Linked DNA regions of Homo sapiens: all the other regions are linked to region 1. The links come from fine-mapping of genetic effects on gene expression. A gene starts in region 1. Each other region holds a variant in brackets. All regions are shown on one strand. Distances are between the middles of the regions.

The links. PIP is the estimated chance that this variant, and not a neighbour inherited with it, causes the effect. A credible set is the group of variants that fine-mapping cannot tell apart.
Region 2: its variant is the best candidate, but not a certain one, in a credible set for the expression of OCLN in whole blood (TOPMed, PIP 0.58).
Region 3: its variant is the best candidate, but not a certain one, in a credible set for the expression of OCLN in whole blood (TOPMed, PIP 0.55).

What each region holds. Positions count from the first base shown.
Region 1 is chr5:69,488,994-69,497,169 of GRCh38, forward strand. It overlaps OCLN (occludin), which reads left to right and starts at 3,797. Exons shown (of 9, transcript NM_001205254.2): 1 at 3,797-3,907.
Region 2 is chr5:69,350,908-69,359,096 of GRCh38, forward strand. AK6 (adenylate kinase 6) reads right to left here. Exons shown (of 5, transcript NM_016283.5): 3 at 4,988-5,046; 4 at 4,742-4,887; 5 at 77-1,346. The coding sequence ends at 1,154. Among named protein-coding and RNA genes, the nearest start is that of AK6, 15 kb to the right of the region's middle. The variant G/A (reference allele first, on the strand shown) is at 4,202.
Region 3 is chr5:69,509,237-69,517,425 of GRCh38, forward strand. It overlaps OCLN (occludin), which reads left to right. Exons shown (of 9, transcript NM_001205254.2): 3 at 1-583; 4 at 4,712-4,873. Among named protein-coding and RNA genes, the nearest start is that of OCLN, 21 kb to the left of the region's middle. RefSeq lists an enhancer at 7,875-8,189. The variant A/AG (reference allele first, on the strand shown) is at 4,047.

The DNA.
Region 1 (8,176 bases):
ATTATTATTCTTCCACCTGTTGAAGTTCCTGTTCAGGTGCTGAGTCTCTTTGTTTAAATATGGATTCCTCCCAGGAGGATCTTGCTTAACACATAGGAATAGAGAAGATAAAGGTTTACTCATCTAGTGTAATCATCCTTTTAGAAATTGTCTTCCTAGTGGCTTCCCCATAAATTCTTCCATACACCTGTCCAAGGAAACTGTCCTGTGTGGACCAGAAGCCTCCCCCTCCTCATGACTGGGCAGAGAAACTAGAGGCCTTTCAGGCCAGGCCCTCAGCAACTCCAAACTGAGTTGCCTTGGACACATACCAGTCTTTGAATTCATTTACTAAGCAGGCAAGGCAGAGTGGAAACAGTGGAACTATGTTAATCTCCCGTCTTTTCTCCTCTAAACCCTAGTACTAGAGATGTAAGCCTTGAAATGCTACTAAGGAACGTGCGGGTTTCACAATAGCAGGAGGCCATCTGAGAGGAGGACAAGACTCCACAGGCATGTTGGATTTGGGAAGCAGGGCTATAGTCATTCATTCATTCATCCAACACATAGTTATGTAATTCCTATGTGACAGGAACTATTTCAGGCATATAGGATACAGCAATGGCTTGCTCAATTTATTGAGACTTGTTTCGTGGCTCAGCATATAGTCTGTCTTGGTGAATGCTCCACATTCCCACCAACAGACTTATAAAGACAGTATTGTTTATTATCATCTCAAATTTACGGTGGAAAAAAATGAACCTTACATAGTTTAATTTCCTTTAGTCCTACCCAGCTACCAAGTAGCAACACTGGAATTTGAACTGAGATTTCTGACACCATAATCTGAGCTCTTAAGTTTCTCTTTTACACATAGAAAAGGAGAAACAAATTGTCTTTTCATCTTATCCATTTGACTGCAGGTAAAGTCAACAAGTTTCTAATCATGGGGTTCTGAAAATAATATTTACATTGCTCTGAGTCACGGGGATTTTCATCAAATAATATTCAATAGTGGATACTACTCAATACTACTGTGAGTTGCCAAGAAGGAATATTTGGTAAAAAATATAGTAATTAAATTTTGCTATAATTTATGATTATGTAACATGATTAAATTGAGCATGGCATCATTTAACATCCAACAAATTTTGTTTTGGTATTGAAGAATGATGTGTTTAAGTTTTAAGGCTGGATTTTCTTTCTAGACACTTTCAACTATGAAATATACACAATATTGGACAATAGTTAACCGTTCTTTTGATGTTGTTGTTTAGAAAATTAATCTCAAGCGAATAAAATAGAATTCATACAATTAATGAATCCTATTATTCCATATGGATGAACTCAGAACTAACTAGAAAGTAAGTTTCACAGAGATTTTTGAGTTTTGTTCACTCGTGTGTGTACAGATTAGGCACTCAGAAAATAGTTGAAGGAATGAATTGGGAAAGCAAATAGAATATGAAAGCCTTCTACCCAACACAACATGTCTTTGAGTTTAGGTTTAGGGTGGGAATAAGAAAAATAACATGATATGCATAAGTTATCTTAAAATGATAAAAAGTTTAATTTAAAAACCTAATTTACCAAGAGAACCGAAAACATATGTCCACACAAAAACTTGTACACAAATGTTCATAGTAACATTATTCATAACATCCCCAAAGGAGAAACAACCCAAATGTTCATCAACAGATGAATGATTAAACGAAATGTGATACATCGATACAATGGAATATTATTCAGTTATAAAAAGGAATGAAGTACCAATACATACTACATCATGGATGAACCTTTAAAATATTATGCTAAGTGAAAGAAGACAGACACAAAGGGCACATATTGTATTATCCATTCATATAAAATGTCCAGAATAGGCAAATTAATAGAGACAGAAAGTACATTAGTGGTTGCCGAGGGATGAGGGGAGAGGGGAAATGGGGAGTGACTATTAATGGGCATGGGGTTTCTTTTGGGGGCGATTAAAATGGAATTAGATGGTGGTGATGGTTGTACAATCTGGTGAGTATACTAAAACCCACTGAATTGTACGTGCCCTTTAAAAGGGTGAATTTTATGGTATGTGAACTCTCTTTTATAAAGTGGAAAAAAACTCCTAAGATCTCTTCAGAACATGTCAAAATACATTATAAAATAATAGACATGTGTTTACAAATCTGAGAGTATTAGGAAATGTTCCCTTGTTTAATTATAAACCAAATGGAATGTTTGGAGATTTCAGTAATCTGACAGGGAACATTAAGGGGATTAACCTGACTTCCCCAGTGTTAACAATACCAATTTAAACTGCATCATTCAAAAACTACATAGTCATATTAAAGCATTTGTAGCAATGACTTCCACGAAAAAAATACCAATTAAATTAATTACCCATTAAAGCTGCCATCATCTGAAATACCTCATATTTATATAGTGCTTTTACTTCCTCAAGTATGAATTGTGCCTTAAGATCTAATGTATGGGAGAGTCACATCTCTAACCATTTAATTAAAGGTAGAGAAGTGGGTGGGATTGGATAGAAATTTATTAGCAATGCTGACATTCCAGATTGGAACACAAAGACAAGCAGGATGTAAGAAACCTAAAAGTTCGCTTTCAATGCAGATAGTTAAATGCCAAGAACTATAATTGCCACATCCTGGAGTACAATTAAAAAATATGTTGAAAAACAACCAACATACATAAAAATATACACAGTGTTAAGTGCAGACTATGAAATTTCCCTTGGAAACAGAATCCAGATCAAGAAATAGAATACAGCACCCGGAACTAAGGTGCTTTTTCGTTTTCTTAAAAAAAAAAAAAAAGTAAACCAAGTTTATTTTGCTTTTTAAGTAGTGTTGTTCTTAAAGCACTACAGGTTGGTAAACAACGTATAAGGTGCTTTTTCTCAGGCCAAAGAGCCATAATAGTTTAAATTTCCCGGTCCTCAAGAGCGGACCGGGTGGGCAGGAGAGGACCCTGGGGTGGTGATGTGTAAACTGTATTATGCACTTTAGCCTGCTGGATGGCAACTAACACCTACAGTAGTTCACCCTCATTTTAACCCCTCTAAGTAATTGTCTCTTATTCTGAATCTAGAGATTCAGAAACAGCGCCAATGTTTACACACGACTTTTGAAATTTTCCCAGGAGTCTTTCGTTGGAGCAATACATCTAGATGCCTTTTTCCAGCAACAGTTTAATCAAATTCTGGAAGCAGAAAAGTGTCCTGTGAGGACGTGCCTTTCCTATCAAAGTGCTGAGTGCCTGGACCCTCTTTCCGGAGGAAACAGTCCCCTCTGGACCTCGTTCGGCCTCTCTCCATCAGACACCCCAAGGTTCCATCCGAAGCAGGCGGAGCACCGAACGCACCCCGGGGTGGTCAGGGACCCCCATCCGTGCTGCCCCCTAGGAGCCCGCGCCTCTCCTCTGCGCCCCGCCTCTCGGGCCGCAACGTCGCGCGGTTCCTTTAACAGCGCGCTGGCAGGGTGTGGGAAGCAGGACCGCGTCCTCCCGCCCCCTCCCATCCGAGTTTCAGGTGAATTGGTCACCGAGGGAGGAGGCCGACACACCACACCTACACTCCCGCGTCCACCTCTCCCTCCCTGCTTCCTCTGGCGGAGGCGGCAGGAACCGAGAGCCAGGTCCAGAGCGCCGAGGAGCCGGTCTAGGACGCAGCAGGTGGGACTCGCGGCGCTGGCCCGCAGGCTTCCCGCACCCCCTTCCACGTTGGTGCGCATGCCCGGGGGCAGGGCCGGTTGTAGGGAGGAGGGAAAGGAGAGGGAGAAGGGGGAGGAGACGTCCCCAGCCCAGTCCCCGGCTGAGCGCTGGCGGTCGGTGCGGCGTCAGGTGCGCCCGCCAGGTGAGCGCGCTCCCTGGCACCGTTGGCCCCCGGAGGGTCGGGCCCAGTTGCGGCGAGCGGGTGAGTGTTGGGCGCGGCGTCAGGGGCGCACGGGAGCCCGAGGGTCCCCGTGGGGGGACCGCGGCGACTATGTTAGGGGAGGTGCCGGGGGGAGGACGCTCCGCGCTGGTTTCGGTGGCAGTTTCGTCCCCGAGCTGGGACTCGTGGGAACCAGAGAGGCGCGGGTCTGCGGAGAGAGCAGCACCGGCCAACTTGGGAGGCTGCCTCCTGGGGCGAGGGGTGGCTTGGAGCCGCCGATCAAGCTTTATTCCGCGGAAACGCTGAAAGCTAGCAGTGCCTCAGCGGCGCGGGCAACTTTTCACTTTTATGGGGCACGACATTCCTGAACAGCGACGATCCTGCATCCGCTCTGGGGCTGCAGTTTGGGGGGGCGGCCTTCATGGAGAGGGATCCTGCGCCCAGCTCCTTGGGGGTCCTAAGCCTGAGGCTGCAGCGAGGCGGCTGTTCGGCGGCCCGGGCGGCTTAGATCCCGGGGGGAATTTCATTCCTTCCGCTCCCACCCCACCCCTTTGGATATCCCGGGGAGACGGGGGCTGGATTCAATCTGTGAAATATTCCAGGAGTCACGGTGTGGGCCACACTGGCTACTTCGAATCCACTTGTTGCGAGTTGTGTGAACCCGCGTCGATTTAAGCTGGGGGGCGGGGAGTTAATTTCGAGTGAGGCTGGACTTCGAGGGAAGCTGCTCACGCTTCGGATTCTCATCCGTGACCAAAAGGGCTGCCCCCAGGGGGGCGGAACTGCCTCCGGGCGGTGCCTGCCCGGCGAACGTGGGCGCGCGCTGCCTGGGAGCGCCTCGGTGCGCACGGAAGCCGGGACCCGCGCCCAGCCGGGCCACGGAGTTTGGGGACCTCCGGGACTGGGCCGGCCCCGCGCGCCAGCCATGTTGCCTGCGTCGGAGGAAGCGTGCGGGGAGCAGGGGTCGAGGGCCAAGATGGCCTCTGCGCCTAGGGGTTGGGAGCGGCGCCGAGCCCCTCGCGCTCCTCGGGAAGCCACCGGGCCCGAGGGAAAAGCCGCGGCATCCTTAGGCCGGACCCGGGGCTCGCTGGCCACACTGCCCGCTTGGGGAATTACCCTGCTCGAGGAGGAGGCGGCGGCTTTCCAGGCCAGTCAGTGTGTGGCCCTTAGGCAACAGGTGTATTATTGGGATACCTGGAAAAGAGAAACGTTTCCCATGAAGGCACTTATGGTGTTTTTTGGTGATTCTTGGTGTGATAGAAAACTAGGCGTTCCCAAGTGTAACAATAGTAACAGTAGTTCTTTTGCACTGTACATATGAGGTGCTTGTGTGTGTGTGTGTGTGTGTTTTTCCGAGACGGAGTCTGGCTCTGTCCCCCAGTGCAGTGGCATCATCTGGGCTCACTGCAACCTCTGCCTCCCGGGTTCAAGCGATTCTCCTGCTCAGCCTCCCGAATAGCTGGGATTACAGGCACCCACTAGTATGCACAGCTAATTTTTGTATTTTTAGTAGAGACAGGGTTTTGCCATTTGGTCAGGCTGGTCTCGAACTCCTGACCTCAGGTGATTCGCCCGCCTTGGCCTCCCAAAGTGCTGGGATTACAGGCGTAAGCCACCACACCCAGCCTTTATGAATATTTTCTTAGTGGTGCTTTAAAATAGACATCTTAAGTGTGTGTGGGAGGCAGAGATATTTCCTCAAACAAAGCAACACTTTTTTTTTGGTCGTTTTGCAATTTATTTAGTTATTAGGGGCCTCCTTTGTTAGGTGACGGAGCAGAGGATAGGGAGATCGGTAAGACATGATTCTCCACCTTTTGGCAGTTTCCAGGCCATTTCGGGAAATAGTGGGCAGCAGTGCCTCCTGCACGTGAGGCACTGTGGTAAAAGCATTCTGTATTTTCTCATTTAATTATCCCAACAACTCTAAAAGGCAGGCCTTAGTAGAACTCCATTTTAAAAGTGGGCAAATGCCGTGGGGGAAACGTTGCAGGTGGGCTTGCTTGCAAACTGCTTCAGCTAATATGGGAAGGAGTATCAGAAGCAGCGGTCCTTGATATTCCAGAACCAGATTTGGGGAATTTTTCTGGACTTTTCTACCATTGACTAGTAACTGTAGCCTGATACAAGATTTCCCGCATTTTGCTTGATATCAAGGTAAAATTCTTGTTTTCTTCTAAAGGTAGTGTTGGAATTACTACCTTTTCAAAATAGTATATTACTTTTAACCACATAAATGATCTGATGTAATATCTTTCATCTTCCTAGGAACCTCCCAGAAGGAAGTTTTCTTCAGTTGCATTTTAAGGCTTATTTGATTGGAATATTAATGGATCTTTTTCATCAAATTACTATTTATGGAAATAAGAGAGTAAACAGACCATGCAGATTTATGTTAGGCTTTTTGTTTTAACCCCTAGGCTTGCCGCTGTTCCGTAACCCAGTGATTCCAGTCTTGGCTGTGGTATGAATCACTTAGGGATCCTATTAAAACACAGATTCTGATTGGGAGGTCAGGAGTGGGGCCTGGGATTCTGCCTTTCTAACAGGCTCACAGGTGATTCTCAGACTGTTCTGTCTTCTTTTTCTCCCTTTCTCTTAGACTCTACGCACTTAATTACATTTGACAAACTGAAGTTGGAAAAAATAACGTTTATTGAGTGTTGTGTGAAGAACTTCAAGGCATTCACTGCTGGATTGAAATCCCAACTCTAATAATTGACTGTTGGTTTTATTAATTGAGTACTCATTGACAATCACTTTGTGCCAGGGCTAGTTCCAGCGACCAGGGATATAAATGATGGTCAAAATAGACATTTGATGTCTGGGATATGGGCATTCCAGATGCGGTGGAGATGATACCTATATTTTAGGTATGAGGGCAGAGGGGAGTTTGCTCTGAAAAAAAAAACAAGTTTTGTGTGATGGAGTGAGGGACAGGGAGGGCATCTCCCAGAAGGTGACGTCTGAGCTGAGACCTGAACAGCAGGTGTCTGTTGTGTAAAAGATCTGGGCTTTCTAGACAGGAAATTGCAAGATCAATGTCCTTTTTGGATTGACACCTTTATTGTAGACAGCAATTCTCAAAATATGTGATGTGTTTAAAAATCACCTGGAAGATTTATTAAAAATACAATTTCTGACACAGAGTCTATTACAAAATCTGCCTAACTTCAAATTTTTAGACAATTTACTAATGATGTGCCTGTAGTCTAAATCATTTAATATAAGGCACAACTTAAACTTTTTTTTTTTTTTTTGAGACAGAGTCTCGCTGTCTCCCAGGCTGGAGTGCAGTGGCACGATCTTGGCTTACTGCAAGCTCCGCCTCCCGGGTTCACACCATTCTCCTGCCTCGGCCTCCCGAGTAGTTGGGACTACAGGCGCCTGCCACCATGCCCAGCTAATTTTTTGTATTTTTAATAGAGGCGGGGTTTCACTGTGTTAGCGGGGATGGTCTCGATCTCCTGACCTCGTGATCCTCCCGTCTCGGCCCCCCAAAGTGCTGGGATTACAGGCGTGAGCCACCGCGCCCGGCCACAACTTAAACTTTTTAAAGGCAAATTGACAGTTACTGCATGTGCTCTAAAAGGAACAGACTTCTCTTAAATACAATAAAGTTTATTTTTCACTTATTGACAGTTTTCTTTAAAGAATAATTTGAGGCCAAAGCATTTTCAGACTATTTTTTCTTTTTTTATACTTTTTTTTTTTTTTTTTTTTTAAGATAGATAACGGAGTCTTACTCTGTTGCCCAGCCTGATCTTGAAGTTCTGGGCTCAAACAATCCCTCTGCCTTGGCTTCCCAAAGTACTGGGATTACAAGTGTGAGCCACCTTGCCCAGCCTCAGCCTGTTTTTTTCATCTTAGCTTAGTTTTCCATTAAGACAGCTTTTGGTCAGTAAACATTGTCAAGGGGAGAACACTTTATATTTTATCATTAGCCCAAGATGCTGGTTTTCAGATTAACATATTTGACAAGGATCTATCTGCTGCTTCCCTTTTGCCCCCGACTCTAATTTAGCTGTCTGACTTCTGTCCTTGTCACTCTCCTGACATAAGTTCCTGTAGGTGATAAGTGGCCTCTTCATTCTCATTTTTTCCTTCACTCAACACATGTACAGATTGTTAATGTTGCTGTGCTGGGCATTGGTCCTCTTTCACCTTTGGCTGCTGGCCTTAAAGCACAGTCACAGATTCACTTTGAAAGAGACCTTAGAAGTCTTCCAGTCTGGTCTCCAAAAAAATATCAAATAACTTAAGCTTTGCATAAATTGCATGAGCTCAAATTGTTGTTAGTTATTTTCGGAG
Region 2 (8,189 bases), 140 kb before region 1:
ATTGGTACATGCTATAACTTAGATGAACCTTGAAAACATTATGCTAAGTGAAAGAAACTGGACACAAAAGGCCACATACTGTATAATCCCATTTATATGAAATATCCAGAATATGCAAATCCATAGAGACAGAAAGTAGACTAGTGACTGCAAGGGGATGAGGAGGAAAGAATAGAGAGTGACTGCTAAAGGGTATAGGAGTTCCCTTTATCATCACTGCTTCCTCCACAGTGGTGACAGTTACATAACCTTGTTAATAAGCTAAAAACCAACGGATTATAAATTTTATTTATGTTTATTTTTAGAGTCTAAGGTCTCACTATGTTGCCCAGGCTGGTCTTGAACTCCTGCCTCAAGCGATTCTCCACCTCAGCCTCCCCATTTGCTGGGATTACAGGCATAAGCCACCATACCCGGTTCTGATTATACACTTCAAAATGGTAAATTTTATTGTATGATATGTATATCTATCTCAACTAAAAAAAAGAACAGGGAGGTCTGTACTGAGATGATATAATCTTCAAATATAGTAAGTGAAAAAAGAAAGGTACAGAATAGTGTGCATAATATACTGTTATATTCTTTAAAAAATGTACACATGTACATATACACTGTGCAGGCATAAAACCTCTAAAAAGACATATAGGAAACCAGTAACATTATTTCCTAAAGGGAAGGAACCTGGGGTGCCTGGGGATAGGGTGGTCTGGAAGGGAGACCTAACTTTTCAACATGCTCTTTTGTACCTTTTGAACTTTGTATCGAGTACAACACTTAACTTTTTTTCTAATTTAAAGAAAGAAAAAAGGAATACTCTGTTGCTTTATCTTTAGTTTTATTTTAAGAGATCATCTGCATTTTTTTCTGTAATAAACTTAAAAGATATCCACCCATTTTGTCAGATTTATTTATTCTTTAGCAATTTAAGTATTAAAATCACAGTTTTTGTCTCAATCCTTAATAATACTATATTCATTATATTTCATGTTTAGCTTTCTCATGGAGAAAAAGAAACACAGGCATAAACCTATATACTATCCACCTGCTGGTTCTGCAACATGATTTTAATAAAGTGTTACTGACACTTGAACAATTTCTATGATGTCGGCAGAGATATCAACAAGAGTGATTATTAAGTAGCTAGCCTTATAAGTCAAGAGTTATGATCTTTGATCCACTGCTCAATCCATTTCAAGATCTGATCTACATTATTTTCTAGCTCTTCTGGTTTATTACTGGGCAGCTGATGCACGATTTCTTCCTTGTAGGATGCTGTGGCTTCTTCATAAAGAACTTGAAAAATCTCACACTGAATATTGTCTGTTAGTTTCTTCTCATTATAACCCCTAGAAGGCAGGGAGGTTAAGCAAACAAGAAGCAAAATAAATGGCATTAACTGGAGTTTCAGAAACATACCAGAAACTGGACACTTTTCAATACGTGAAAAATTACAGAAATGGTCTCTTCACCTAGAGAGGAGTGACTGGTACCTGTTTATATGACACAGTTTCTTGACACTAGGGTGAAACTAAAGATCACCAAACCAGCATCTAGGTTTGTTTGAATTTCCCCCCCCCACAATTTGTCAGCTACTCAATAAATTCCCAATGAATTAGTAAATTAGCAAAATCTCATAACTTAGTAATAAAAAGATTTGTAACCCAATTAAAACTTAAGCAAAGAATCTGAGTAAATATTTCTCCAAGGAAGATACACAACTGTCTAATAAGGACATGAAAAGATGTTCAGCATCTCTAGCTGTATAGGAAATGCAAATCAAAATTACAATGAGATATTACTTCACATCCAGCAGGATGACTACAACCAAAATATGAACAATAACAGCTGTTGGTGAGGATGTGGACAAATTAGAACCCTCATACACAGTGTGAATATGAGATGATGCAGCCACTATGGAAAACAATCTGGCAGTTATTGGAAGGGTCAAATACAAAGTTTCCATATTACCCAGCAATTCAATTCCTAGATATATAAACAAGAGAAATAAACACATGATGTCCACACAAAAACATGTGCAAGAATGTTTATGGATACAATATTCATAACAGCCAAAAAGTGAAACAACCCAAATGTCCACAACCTGATAAATGTATTTTAAAAATGATACATCCATACAATGGAATATTATTTGGCAATAAAAAGAAATGAAGTACTGGTCTATGATACAATATGAATGAACCTTGAAAACAAACTAATTTGACAGGAGACAGGCATAAAAGTCCACATCCTGTATGATTTCATTCATATGAAATATCTAGTATAGACAAATCCATAAAGACAGAGAGTAGATTATTGGTTGCCTAGGGCTGGGGAACTGAGGGTAAATGGGGAGTGACTACTACTGGGTATGGGGTTCCTTTCTGGGGTGACAAAAATTTTCTTTTTTTGAGACGGAGTCTTGCTCTGTCACCCAGGCTGGAGTGCAGTGGTGTGATCTCGGCTCACTGCAACCTCCACCTTCCGGGTTCAAGCAATTCTCCTGCCTCAGCCTCCTGAGTAGCTGGGATTACAGGTGCAAGCCACCACGCCCAGCTAATCTTTGTATTCCTAGTAGAGACGGGGTTTCACCATGTTGGTCAGGCTGGTCTCGAACTCCTGACCTCATGATTCAGCCACCTTGGCCTCCCAAAGTGCTGGAATTACAGGCGTGAGCCACCGCGCCCACCCCCAAAATTTTCTAAAATTGTTTGTGGTAATGATTGTACAACTTTTTGATATACAAAAAAACAAATGAGCAACTGATATATACACCTACTATGTACCCATAAAACTAGAAAAAAACCTGAATTATGTACTTTAAGTGGGTGAATGTAAACTAAATCTCAATAAAGTGGATATTTTTGTTTTTTGGTTGCTTTTGAGACAGGGTCTTGCTTTGTCAACCAGGCTGGAGTGCAGTGGTGCAATCACAGCTCACTGCAGCCTCAACCTCCCAGGCTCAAGCATTCCTCCCACCTCAGCCTCCAAAGTAGCTGGGACCACAGGTGCATGCCACCACACTTGGCTAAATTTTTTATTTTTTGTAGAGACCAAGGTCTTGCTATGTTGCCCAGGCTGGTCTCAAACTCCTAGGCTCAAGCAATCACCTTGCCTCAGCCTCCCAAATTGCTGGGATTACAGGTGTGAGGTGTGAGCCGTCCTGCCTCCCCCTCACCACCCAACCATGCCCAGCCTAAAGCTGTTACTTTTTTACAACCTTTTCGATAGTTAAAAATACTAACTAGCTCTCTCATAGTTTTTTCATACCTTAGTCTTACCCTTGGCTATATATGTAAAACAGTAATTTTTTAATCAAAATTTTAAATTGTCTTGATTGAAAAAAAGCATATGTACCATATAGTCTCTATTACTTCTCTGCCCCAAAACTTTTAATGGCTTTTCACTGCCTAAAAAAGATAAAAGTTTTAGGTTTAGCCCCAATTTAACTTTTTCTATATGTATATTTGCTGCCATACTATTCTGTGCAAGGATTTACAAGTATTGCAAATAATAGTGGTTAGTCAGAGTTGACTATAATCAGTGAAAACCACACATTCTGACCCCGACCTTAAGCAAAATTCTGGAGCTTTCCTTTCTGAGATTGCTCTCTAATTTCTCTAGAATCCCCATATTCCCACAGCTTTGATCAAAAGACAGTGGGGATAAAAGACTTCCCTAAAAGTTTCTCTTTACTGGTTCTTCCGCATTAAATCTGATGCTCTATTTGTGGGTTTAACTCGGTATCTATTAAAGACTGTGAAATGCTGGTTTATTTTGTTAGTTTTTCATAAGCTTTCCCACTCCTGATGCAGGGATAATTTGAGTGAGTAGTGTTCAGTCAATAAGCAAAGAATATGTTAGGGGCTTGGCTGTTTTCCTAGCAAGGGTTTACATCAAAGAAAAAGCATGGCTAAATAGGGTTTCTTTTTTTTGTTTGAGACGGAGTCTCACTCTGTTGCCCAGGCTGGAGTGCAGTGGTGTGATCTCAGCTCACTGCAAGCTCCACCTCCCAGGTTCACGTCGTTCTCCTGCCTCAGCCTCCAGAGTAGCTGGGACTGTACAGGTGCCTGCCACCATGCCCGGCTAATTTTTTTTGCATTTTTAGTAGTGACAGGATTTCACCATGTTAGCCAGCATGGTCTCGATGTCCTGACCTTGTGATCCTCCCACCTTGGTCTCCCAAAGTGCTGGGATTACAAGC[G/A]TGAGCCACTGTGCCCGGCCGACTAAATTGGGTTTCTACACAGTACATTTTACTCAATCAGATTGTCAGTTGAGATATTAATTTACTCAAAAAGTACTGCCCATATTTTAAAGTAGTCATATTTTCAAATAAAACCCTTTATTAGCTGGGTGCTATGACTCACACCTGTAGCCTCAGCACTTTGGGAGGCTGAGGTGGGCAGATTGCTGGAGCCCAAGAGTTCGAGACCAGTCTGGGCAACATGGGAGACCCCATCTCTACAAAAAATAAAAAAATTAGCCAGGCAAGGTGGCATGTGCCCGTGGTCTGTTAGTCAGGAGGCTGAGGCACAAGAATTGCTTGAACCAGGGAGGTGGAGGTTGCAGTGGACCGAGATCACACCACTGCCCTCCAGCCTGGGTGACAGCGAGACTCTATCTCAAAAAAACAAAACAAAACAAAACAAAACAAACAACAACAATCTTTTATCATGGCCAATTTCAGAAATCTGAATAAAAGTTAACATTATGCTTTAAGAATCTAATGTTTTTCCTTTCTTACCTTGTTTCAAGTCTTTCGTACAATACATTGGTATCTGTTCTCAGCACAAAAACTATATGAAACCAGCGTTCAGGGAAGAAATCACAACCATGGTAATCAACAATAACTCCACCTTCTCTCATTTGGTTATCTAACTCATCAACTACCTGTAAGAAAAGTTTAAAAAAAAATGCTTCTTAAGAAAACTGAAGTCAACTTTCCTATGAAATTCAACAAATGCATACTTTATGAAAAAGTCATACTTACTCTGTCTTCATCTAAAATGGGACAGTCATACTCTTCATCATAGCCATCATACAATTGCTCTAAAAGAGATTTAGAATTGCTTGTTGAAATATTTTCTAAGTAACTTTAAGTAATTTTCAATTAATTCTAGACTTCAGGAAAGGAAATGTATCATCAATTATTCTTTTAGATACAAGGGTGGATACTAACAAAATAAATGTTACATAAACACCAAATATAAAGGAGCCATACTAACTGATAAATTGGAATTTTGTTTAGAGGGAAACTTGGATTGCAATATATCTGAAACTGCTTTAAATATCAAAACTGAAACCAACTAAAAAGAGTGAATAACCAACTTCAGAATTTGTGGGGCTACTAGAAGAGGACTACACTATTTTTGTTGAACTACAGATTGGCGGGAAGAGGAAACACCTGAACAGATACAAACACACTCACATACATTTAAAAGCAGATTAATTTATCAAAAGCAGTAACAGGCCAGGCATGGTGGCTTTGCGCTTGTAATCCCAGCCCATACGAGGTAGGAGGATCTCTTGAGCCCAGGAGTTCAAGACAGCCTGGGCAATATGTTGAGAACCTGTTTCTACAGAAAAAAAAAAAAAAATTAGGCAGGCATGGTGGTGCACACCTGTAGTCCCAGTTACTTGGGAGGCTGAGGCAGAAGGATTGCTTGAGCCTGGGAGGTGGAGGTTACAATAAGGTGAGATCACACCACCGTACTCCAGGCTGGGCGACAGAGCAGGACCCTGTCTCCAAAAAGAAAGAAAGAAAAAAGCAATAACAGATTCTTTATTCCAGAAATGAACCCTCTGTCACTGAGCTCACATCCTCATGGGAATAGAGAAGGGTCAGGATCCAAATGCTCCTGAACAGTATCTTTACTTCTAGATTTCCAGTATTCCAAACTGCCGTTCCTCATAAGAGTTAAATAGTCTCATTTCAGAAGGCAAAACAAAAATAACGTTCAAAGTTACAAAGGAGGCAAATTTAAATTTAACATAAGAACTTTCCAACAAATCACAGCTGGTTTTCAAAAGAAGTATTCTTTCAGGAGGTAAGACATACCATCTTACCCTTAGCCCCAGCCCTTAGGAGGTATTAATCTAAGGCAAGCTCAGATCATCCATTAACCATCTCTGAGAGCATGTTATATAGCAGTCTTCCCACCTCTTTCCCCTTAATATTTTGGTACGGGTTGAAATGAGGTTAAAATGAACATAAATTCTGAAGGGACACAGGAGTAGTCTGATGGTCACTGCGGGGGCAGTCTGATGGACACTGGAGGGCACAAAAGCAGTTGTAACTCCTTGTCTTGCCTGGAGGGTCTGTGGACTGATTCTAGGCACATAAACCACCTTTCTAGCACTCTAGTGTGGCCTCTGCCTCCTTGGGCTATTGCTCACCTACCAGGAACTCTACCAACCTAAAAAATTAAACTGTCTTGGTATGAAGAAAACTGGTTAACAATTTAGAAAACAATCTAAATCCTTACTTTATACCACAAACCCCAGATGGAGCTATAAAGGAATGATTCATTTGAGTTTGTTGAGTAGCAGAAGAAATAAAAAGACTGATCCAGTTATTTAAAATGTTGACTCTCTGTTCCTTGAGAAATAATCAAATTCTAAGAAAAGTAACAGAATGGGAGAAATAACAAAGGACTGAAATGTAGATAATATAAAGACCTTAAAACCAAAATAACAATTGCTCAATAAACAAGAAAAGAATTCACACAAGATGGAAGAGTGGAAAAAATCAGTAAACACACATGAAAAAATACTGAATTTTCCTAGCTATTAAAGAGATGCAAATTAAAATGAGTCTATATTTATGCCTGTTATATGTTCAATCCATTTAGATATTTACACTACCATTTAATTTCTAATTGGACAAAATTAGAAAATAATAAAAAATGTTGAACAATAAGAAAAGTTAAATCTTGATTTACCAACTTTATAACTTTATAAAATATTATGTAATTAATTTTGTAAAAATTATGTAATTAAAATTAATAAGTATTAGAGTTATAGTATTATAGTTAACATAGTTTAAAAATACTATGTAGTATAGACTAGGCAGCAACATGATAAATGCTCACATATACAAGTGTAAAACACAAAAAGCAGAATTCAAAGTTGTCCTTACTAGGGACAAAGATTAGAAGAAAAACAAAAGCTTTGGAGTATTTTTCCATATACTATTTTTACAGTATTGCATATTTTTTTAACAGTACCACAAAATCTAAGAATACCTATAGCTGATTCTGTACTATGTGGTAATCTTGAATAGATAAACACGGAGGTTCCTTCATACTTTAAATCTTTGACTTTTAAAAGATGACTCTGGCCGGTGCGGTGGCTCATGCCTGTAATTCCAGCACACTGGAAGGCCGAGGTGGTTGATCACCTGTGGTCAGGAGTTGAGACCAGCCTGGCCAACATGGTGAAACCCCATCTCTACCAAAAATACAAAAGTTAGCCAGGCGTGGTGGCGGGTGCCTGTAATCCCAGCTGCTTGGGAGGTTGAGGCAGGAGAATCGCTTGAACCCGGGAGGAGGCTGCAGTGAGCTGAGATCGCGCCACTGCACTCCAGCCTGGGTGACAGAGCAAGACTCTGTCTCAAAAAAAAAAAAAAAAAAAAAAAAAGAAAGATGACTTGAACCAATATATGCTGTCTAAAATAGATGTGTTAACTTTTAGGATTGAAGTCTTTATTTTTTTTGAGACGGAGTCCCAGAGGCTATCAAGTCTACTGCAGATTTTTAGGTAAGTGATGATTGTAGCCTGTACCAGAGAAATGAACGGATCCTAAACTTCATTTCAAATTTCAAAAAAAGAATAAATTTTATGCTACTTTAGAAAGTTTCAATTGGAAGCCAAATTTATACTTGCCTATACATAGGATCTTAAGCAAAGATCAAAAAGGTTGATTTGTTTAAGGACTGAGAGATTAGAAAATTAAATCAACTTTCTAAACAAAGTTTTGCAGTTTATTTTTTTAAATTCCAGGTACAGATATATTGCTTGCAGAAAAAAAATCAATTGTGGGGCCAGAGTTAAAAGGGTGAGCATGGTGGTTCGCGCTTATAATCCTAGCACTTTCAGAGGCCGAGGTGGGAGGATCTCTTGAGCCTGGGAGTTCGGGATCACCCTGGATAACATAGCAACACCCCACCACTACCAAAAGAAAAAAAAAAAAA
Region 3 (8,189 bases), 20 kb after region 1:
AGATGAAATTCTTCACTTCTACAAATGGACCTCTCCTCCAGGAGTGATTCGGATCCTGTCTATGCTCATTATTGTGATGTGCATTGCCATCTTTGCCTGTGTGGCCTCCACGCTTGCCTGGGACAGAGGCTATGGAACTTCCCTTTTAGGAGGTAGTGTAGGCTACCCTTATGGAGGAAGTGGCTTTGGTAGCTACGGAAGTGGCTATGGCTATGGCTATGGTTATGGCTATGGCTACGGAGGCTATACAGACCCAAGAGCAGCAAAGGGCTTCATGTTGGCCATGGCTGCCTTTTGTTTCATTGCCGCGTTGGTGATCTTTGTTACCAGTGTTATAAGATCTGAAATGTCCAGAACAAGAAGATACTACTTAAGTGTGATAATAGTGAGTGCTATCCTGGGCATCATGGTGTTTATTGCCACAATTGTCTATATAATGGGAGTGAACCCAACTGCTCAGTCTTCTGGATCTCTATATGGTTCACAAATATATGCCCTCTGCAACCAATTTTATACACCTGCAGCTACTGGACTCTACGTGGATCAGTATTTGTATCACTACTGTGTTGTGGATCCCCAGGAGGTATGAGTGGTGTTTTGGGTTTTTTCTCCATCTCCTTAGCAGAGGCCTTCAACTTGAGATATGTGATAGAATCACTCTGGAAACTCTTAAAAAATATTGATGACAAGGCTCCACTTCTAATTAAATCTGGGGGAGGGGCTGAGTCTCATTAAGATATGATTAACATACCATGTAATTTGATTACTTAAATAACAGTTCAGTGGTTTTTAATATATTCACAGAATTGTGCCACCATCACCACAATCAATTTTAGAACATTTTCACTATCCTAAAAAGAAACTTGTACCCGTTAGCGGTCACTCCTCATTTCCCTAACCATTCTTAGCCCTAGGCAACCACTAATCCTACATCTATAAATTTGTCTATTCTCTAGGTATTTCATATAAATGGAATCACACAATGTGGTCTTTGTGATGGGCTTCTTTTACGTAGCATAATGTTTTTAAGGTTTACCCATGTCATAGCTTGTGCCATTCTCTCATTCCTTTTTATTGCTAATATTCCAGTGTGTGGATAAACCACATTTTATTTATCAGTTGATAGACATTTGTGTCTACATTGGCTATTAAGAATCATGCTAGACTGGGCACGGTGGCTCATGCTTGTAATCCCAGCACTTTGGGAGGCTGAGGCGGGCGGATCATGAGGTCAGGAGATTGTGACCATCCTCGCTAATAAGGTGAAACCCCGTCTCTACTAAAAATACAAAAAAAATTAGCTGGGCATGGTGGCAGGCACCTGTAGTCCCAGCTACTCGGGAGGCTCAGGCAGAAGAAATGGCGTGAACCCGGGAGGCGGAGCTTGCAGTGAGCTGAGATTGCGCCACTGCACTCCAGCCTGAGCGACAGAGCAAGACTCCATCTCAAAAAAAAAGAATCATGCTATAGACATTCTTGTATACGTTTTTGTGTGAACCTATGTTTTAATGATTTCTTGAGTTGGGTTATACCTAGGGGTGGAATTGCTGGGTCATATGGTGACTCTTTAATCTTTTGGGGAGCTACCAGAGTTTTTCCAAAGAGTTTGCATCATTTTACATTCACATCAGAAATGTATGAAAGTTCCAATTTCTCCACATCCTCACCAACACTTGTTATTGTCTGATTCTAGCCATGCTGATGGGTGAGAAGTGAAGTGGTGCTTTATTGTGATTTTGATTCGTATTTTCTTTATAGCTAATGTTATTAGCTATATAGTCATGTACTTATTGGCCATTTCTCTCTTATCTTTGGAGAAATGGCTGTTTAGACTTGTCCATTTTTTTTTTCTTTTTGAGACGGAGTCTTGCTCTATCGCCCAGGCTGGAGTGCAGTGGTGTGATCTTTGCTCACTGTGAGCTACGCCTCCTGGGTTCACACCATTCTCCTGCCTCAGCCTCCTGAATAGCTGGGACTACAGGCACCGGCCACCACGCCCAGCTAATTTTTTTTTTTTTTTGTATTTTTAGTAGAGATGGGGTTTCACCGTGTTAGCCACGATGGTCTCTATCTTCTGACCTCGTGATCCGCCCGCCTCGGCCTCCAAAGTGCTGGGATTACAGGTGTGAGCCACTGTGCCCGGCCTAGACTTGCCCATGTTTTAATTGGGCTATTTTTGTTGTTGTTTTGTTTTTGAGACAGAGTCTCACTGTCACCCAGGCTGGGGTGCAGTGGTGCAGTCACAGCTCACTGCATCCTTGACCTCCTGGGCTCAAGTGACCCTCCTACCTCAGTCTCCTGAGTAGCTAGGACCACAGGGGCATGCCACCACACCCGGATAATTTTTTAAAAAATTTTTTGTAGAGACAGGGTCTCACTTTGTTGCCCGGTCTGGGCTGGAACTCCTGGGCTCAAGTGATCCTGCCTTGGCCTTCCAAACCGCTGGGATTATAGGCATCTTTTCACTTTCTTGATGGTGTCCTTTGCATAAAAGCTTTTAGTTTTGGGCCGGGCATGGTAGCTCACGCCTGTAATCCCAGCACTTTGGAAGGCCAAGGTGGGCGGATCACCTGAGGTCAGGAGTTCGAGACCAGCCTGGCCAACATGGTGAAACTCCATCTCTACTAAAAATAGAAAAATTACCTGGACACGGTGGCGTGCCTGTAATCCCAGCTACTCAGTAGGCTGAGGCAGGAGAATCACTTGAACCCAGGAGGTGGAGGTTGCAGTGAGCTGAAATTGTGCCACTGCACTCCAGCCTAGACAACAAGAGCAAAACTCTGTCTCAAAAAAAAAAAAAAAAAAAAAATTTTTAGTTTTGATGATGTCCAGTTTATTTAATTTTTCTTCTGTTGCTTGTATTTTTGGTGTCATATCTAATGCTTTGCCTAATTCAGGGTCACAAGGATTTACTCCTATGTTTTCTATTATTTAATTTTTCTATAGTTTCATAATTTTAGCTTTTACAGTTAGGTCTGTGATTCATGTTGTGTTAATTTTGGGCATGATGGAAGCAAGGGTTCTGAAAGCTTTCGCATGTTTATATGCAGTTGTCTCAGTGTTACTTGTTGAAAGGACTGTTCCTCCACTAAGTTTTCTTCATGCCTTTGTCAAAAATGAATTGATCATAAATGTGGACATTTATTTCTGGGCTCTCAGTTCAGCTGCATTAATCATATGTCCTAATGCCAGTACCATACTGTCTTGATTACTGTAACTTTATAGTAAGTTTTGAAATTGTGGAGTGGGAGTTCTCCAACTTTGTTCTTCAAGACTGTTTTGGCTAGATTCTGGATTCCTTGCATTTCCATATGGATTTTAAGATCAGCATGTCAATTTTGGAAAAAAATGCCAGCTAGGATTTTGAAGGGTTATATTGAATCTGTAGGTCAATTTTGGATGTATTGTCATCTTTACAATTACAAGTCTTCTGATTCATGAACGTAAGATTCTTTTGATTTATGTAGGTCTTGTTAAACTTCTTTTAATAGTGTTTTATAGTTTTCAGAGTGTAAGTTAGTATGTTTAAAAGCTAAGCAAGTGATTCAAATGTGCAGGTTGGAGTTGAGAAACCTACTTTAGTAACCATGAGTCATACTGATTATATTAATATCTGAAATGTTTCTGAGTTACTGATCTTTTTTCCCTTGTTTTTCCTTTTTTCTTACACTAACTCAGGAGTTCCCATTCCTGAATGAGTCACTCCTTTGGAGTTAGACCTCTAGTATCTGTCTACCATTATTTAGAAGACTGAAGGTTTTCCCTGCAGACGTAGGTTTTCACAGTGCTCGTTGTTGCCATTTAGACATGTCCATGGTAGATAGGGACTGAGGGTTGGTACTCCTATCCTACCACACCCCTATCCCTCTTAGTTCTCTTACTACTTACTCTTTGAAAAATGATGTCACTGTCAAGACAGCTGGAAGGAGAGCCTCTTGTTCCCATTAGCAGACATCCAGGGTAGAGGCCTGATATTTCCCTCAACTTCAAGTGCCTCCCAGGCCAATATACCATTTAATATCCTATCACCACTGGGAGAACTGTTA[A/AG]GAGTAGGAAGTTTCTTTGTTACAGGGCCCTTTCTAGTAGTATGCAAGACTCCTGAAACAGAGAAACCTGCCAGACCAAATCAATCATTAGTCAATTTGCTATTTATAGCTTGATTAGATCCATGTCTTCATCATTTTTGGTAAGATAGAGATCTATGGACAGAAATTTACATTCAGTGTAAAAAGGCTTGCCAAGCATATGTTTTGAACAAGATTACAAGCATGATTGGCTATTTCAAAGCTGTGAATACTTTTGAGAGTAGCATTTTTCAGGCCCTTTAGAAGTATACCAATGATTGAGTTACTTTACTGGCCATTCTCGTAGGTGCACAAAGCTTGGCCCGTAGGTGTACAAGCTTTGGAACTAGTTTTTTACAGCTCTGAAATGAGGGTGATGATTGATAGTTCCTAACATTAGGCATTTTCTGAGGATTGAGTCAAGCAGTATGTACGTGTGTGTACATTTGCTGGCCTTAGCCCAGTTAGTGTGGGTTAGGTTTTATGATATGTCTGAAATGTAACTATTTGCTTCAGTTTTCTATCAATTAAACCACATGGATTTAGTAGGGCCTTAGGGTAGATAAGGGTTTTAATAATATGTAGAGGGTGAATTGTGATTAAGCAATTAAAATCTAATTATGCCAATATTTTCCACTCCTTTTTAGGCCATTGCCATTGTACTGGGGTTCATGATTATTGTGGCTTTTGCTTTAATAATTTTCTTTGCTGTGAAAACTCGAAGAAAGATGGACAGGTATGACAAGTCCAATATTTTGTGGGACAAGGAACACATTTATGATGAGCAGCCCCCCAATGTCGAGGAGTGGGTAAGTGTTAAAAAATAACTTTACATCTTTTATTAAAGCCCCAAATTTGTGTCTGAATTTTTAGTGCTTTGTTAAACTTTATTCTTAGAATTAATGTTTGTATATGTTGCAAAGGTTGTTGCATTGGTTTTTACTCAGAATTTTAAGAGGATGGGCTAAGTGGAAATGGTTTTACTAAAAGGTGAAAATCAGATTTCCATTTTCAAGGAGTGAATCTTGGTTTTGAAAAGAAATGGCTTCTAAAAAAATCATGCAGAAAGAACTTGGCCTTTGCAAAACAAAAACTACTTCTTCCCTCTACTCCCTTTTATTTTTCTGCTTATCATTTTGGAGATAAACAGAAACCATTGCCAAAGGTGCTCTCGTGGGTCAAGATTGGCAAGAGTGTTTTTGGAATAGCAGGTGGCAGGCCTTTTAAACTTTTTTTTTTTTTTATTGATCATTCTTGGGTGTTTCTCACAGAGGGGGATTTGGCAGGGTCATAGGACAATAGTGGAGGGAGGGTCAGCAGATAAACAAGTGAACAAAGGTCTCTGGTTTTCCTATGCAGAGGACCCTGCGGCCTTCTGCAGTGTTTGTGTCCCTGGGTACTTGAGATTAGGGAGTGGTGATGACTCTTAACGAGCATACTGCCTTCAAGCATCTGTTTAACAAAGCACATCTTGCACCACTCTTAATCCATTTAACCCTGAGTGGACACAGCACATGTTTCAGAGAGCACAGGGTTGGGGGTAGGGTCACCGATCAACAGGATCACAAGGCAGAAGAATTTTTCTTAGTACAGAACAAAATGAAAAGTCTCCCGTGTCTACCACTTTCTACACAGACATGGCAACCATCCGATTTCTCAATCCTTTCCCCGCCTTTCCCCCCTTTCTATTCCACAAAACCGCCATTGTCATCATGGCCCTTTCTCAATGAGCTGTTGGGTACACCTCCCAGACGGGGTGGTGGCTGGGCAGAGGGGCTCCTCACTTCCCAGTAGGGGCGGCCGGGCAGAGGCGCCCCTCACCTCCTGGACCGGGCGGCTGGCCGGGCGGGGGGCTGACCCCCCCACCTCCCTCCCGGACGGGGCGGCTGGCCGGGCAGAGGGGCTCCTCACTTCCCAGTAGGGGCGGCCGGGCAGAGGCGCCCCTAACCTCCCGGATGGGGCGGCTGGCCGGGCGGGGGGCTGACCCCCCCACCTCCTTCCCGGATGGGGCGGCTGGCCGGGCAGAGGGGCTCCTCACTTCCCAGTAGGGGCGGCCGGGCAGAGGGGCCCCTCACCTCCCAGACAGGGCGGCTGGCCGGGCAGGGGGCTGACCCCCCTACCTCCCTCCCAGACGGGGCGGCTGGCCGGGCAGAGGGGCTCCTCACTTCCCAGTAGGGGCGGCCGGGCAGAGGCGCCCCTCACCTCCCGGACGGGGCGGCTGGCCGGGCGGGGGGCTGACCCCCCCCCACCTCCCTCCCGGACGGGGCGGCTGGCCGGGCGGGGGGCTGACCCCCCCACCTCCCTCCCGGACGGGGCGGCTGGCCGGGCGGGGGGCTGACCCCCCCACCTCCCTCCCGGATGGGGTAGCTGCCGGGCAGAGACGCTCCTCACTTCCCAGACAGAGTGGCTGCCGGGCGGAGGGGCTCCTCACTTCTCATATGGGGCGGTTGCCAGGCGGAGGGTCTCCTCACTTCTCAGACGGGGCGGCTGGGCAGAGACGCTCCTCACCTCCCAGACGGGGTCGCGGCTGGGTAGAGGCGCTCCTCACATCCCAGACGGGGTGGCGGGGCAGAGGCGCTCCCCACATCTTAGACGATGGGCGGCCGGGCAGAGACGCTCCTCACTTCCTAGATGGCATGGGGGCCGGGAAGAGGCGCTCCTCACTTCCTAGATGGGATGGCGGCCGGGCAGAGACGCTCCTCACTTTCCAGACTGGGTAGCCAGGCAGAGGGGCTCCTCACGTCCCAGACGATGGGCGGCCAGGCAGAGACGCTCCTCACTTCCCAGACGGGGTGGCGGCCGGGCAGAGGCTGCAATCTTGGCACTTTGGGAGGCCAAGGCAGGCGGCTGGGAGGTGGAGGTTGTAGCGAGCCGAGATCACGCCACTGCACTCCAGCCTGGGCACCATTGAGCACTGAGTGAACCAGACTCCGTCTGCAATCCCGGCACCTTGGGAGGCCGAGGCTGGCGGATCAGTCGCAGTTCGGAGCTGGAGACCAGCCCGGCCAACACAGCGAAACCCCGTCTCCACCAAAAAAATAAGAAAACCAGTCAGGCGTGGTGGCGCGCGCCTGCAATCGCAGGCACTCGGCAGGCTGAGGCAGGAGAATCAGGCAGGGAGGCTGCAGTGAGCCGAGATGGCAGCAGTACAGTCCAGCTTCGGCTCGGCATCAGTGGGAGACCGTGGAAAGAGAGGGAGAGGGAGACCGTGGGGAGAGGGAGAGGGGGGAGAGGGAGAGGGCAAAACTTTTGACATAGATAACAGCATGACAAACCACAGTGACTAATTCTGAGTTAACATTATGAAATACTTCAGTGAGGCAAAGACAGATTAGAAAAATTTCCTTTTAAAAATATATACTATTAATCTTACCAAGCTTCCTATATGATGTGATTTGCTGAAAGCCTGGAAAGTTCCTCTTTAAAGATGCCTCCCAAATGAGTGTTAGTAAACTGTTTTTAGAGCTTTTTAGAGGCCAGGTGTGGTGGCTCACACTTGGAATCCCAGCACTTAGGGAGGCCAAGGTGGAAGGATCACTTGAGTCCAGGAGTTTGAGAACAACCTAGGCAACATAATGGGACCCTGTCTCTACAAAAAATAAAAAAAAAATTAGCTGGGCATGATGATGTATGCCTGTAGTCCCAGCTACTCAGGAGGCTGAGGTGATAGAATCACTGGAGCATGGGAGGTTGAAGCTGCAGTGAGCTGTTATTCTGCCACTGGCACTCTTGCCTGGATGGCAGAGTGAGACCCTGTCTCGGAAAAAAATAAAAATGAAAAGATGTTTGGAGTGAAACTTTTTCTAAGAAATCCTGTTAGGGTCCTGTTAGAAGCTACCTCAGAAACTGACATCACAGGGTTCTTTGAGCAGATTGATTTATTGTCATGAAGGTATGGCCACAGGTTCCCAGGAAGGTTTATTTTGGCCACTGGGAGTGGGGTGGCTAAAGATGGATGCTGGCTGCTGCTAGTCAGGTCTGGGGTAAAGACATTAATATATATATATATATATATTTTTTTTTTTTTTGAGACGGCTTCTGGCTCTGTCGTTCAGGCTGGAGTACAGTGGTGCAATATTGGCTCACTGCAACCTCCGCCTCCCGGGTTCAAGAGATTCTCCTGCC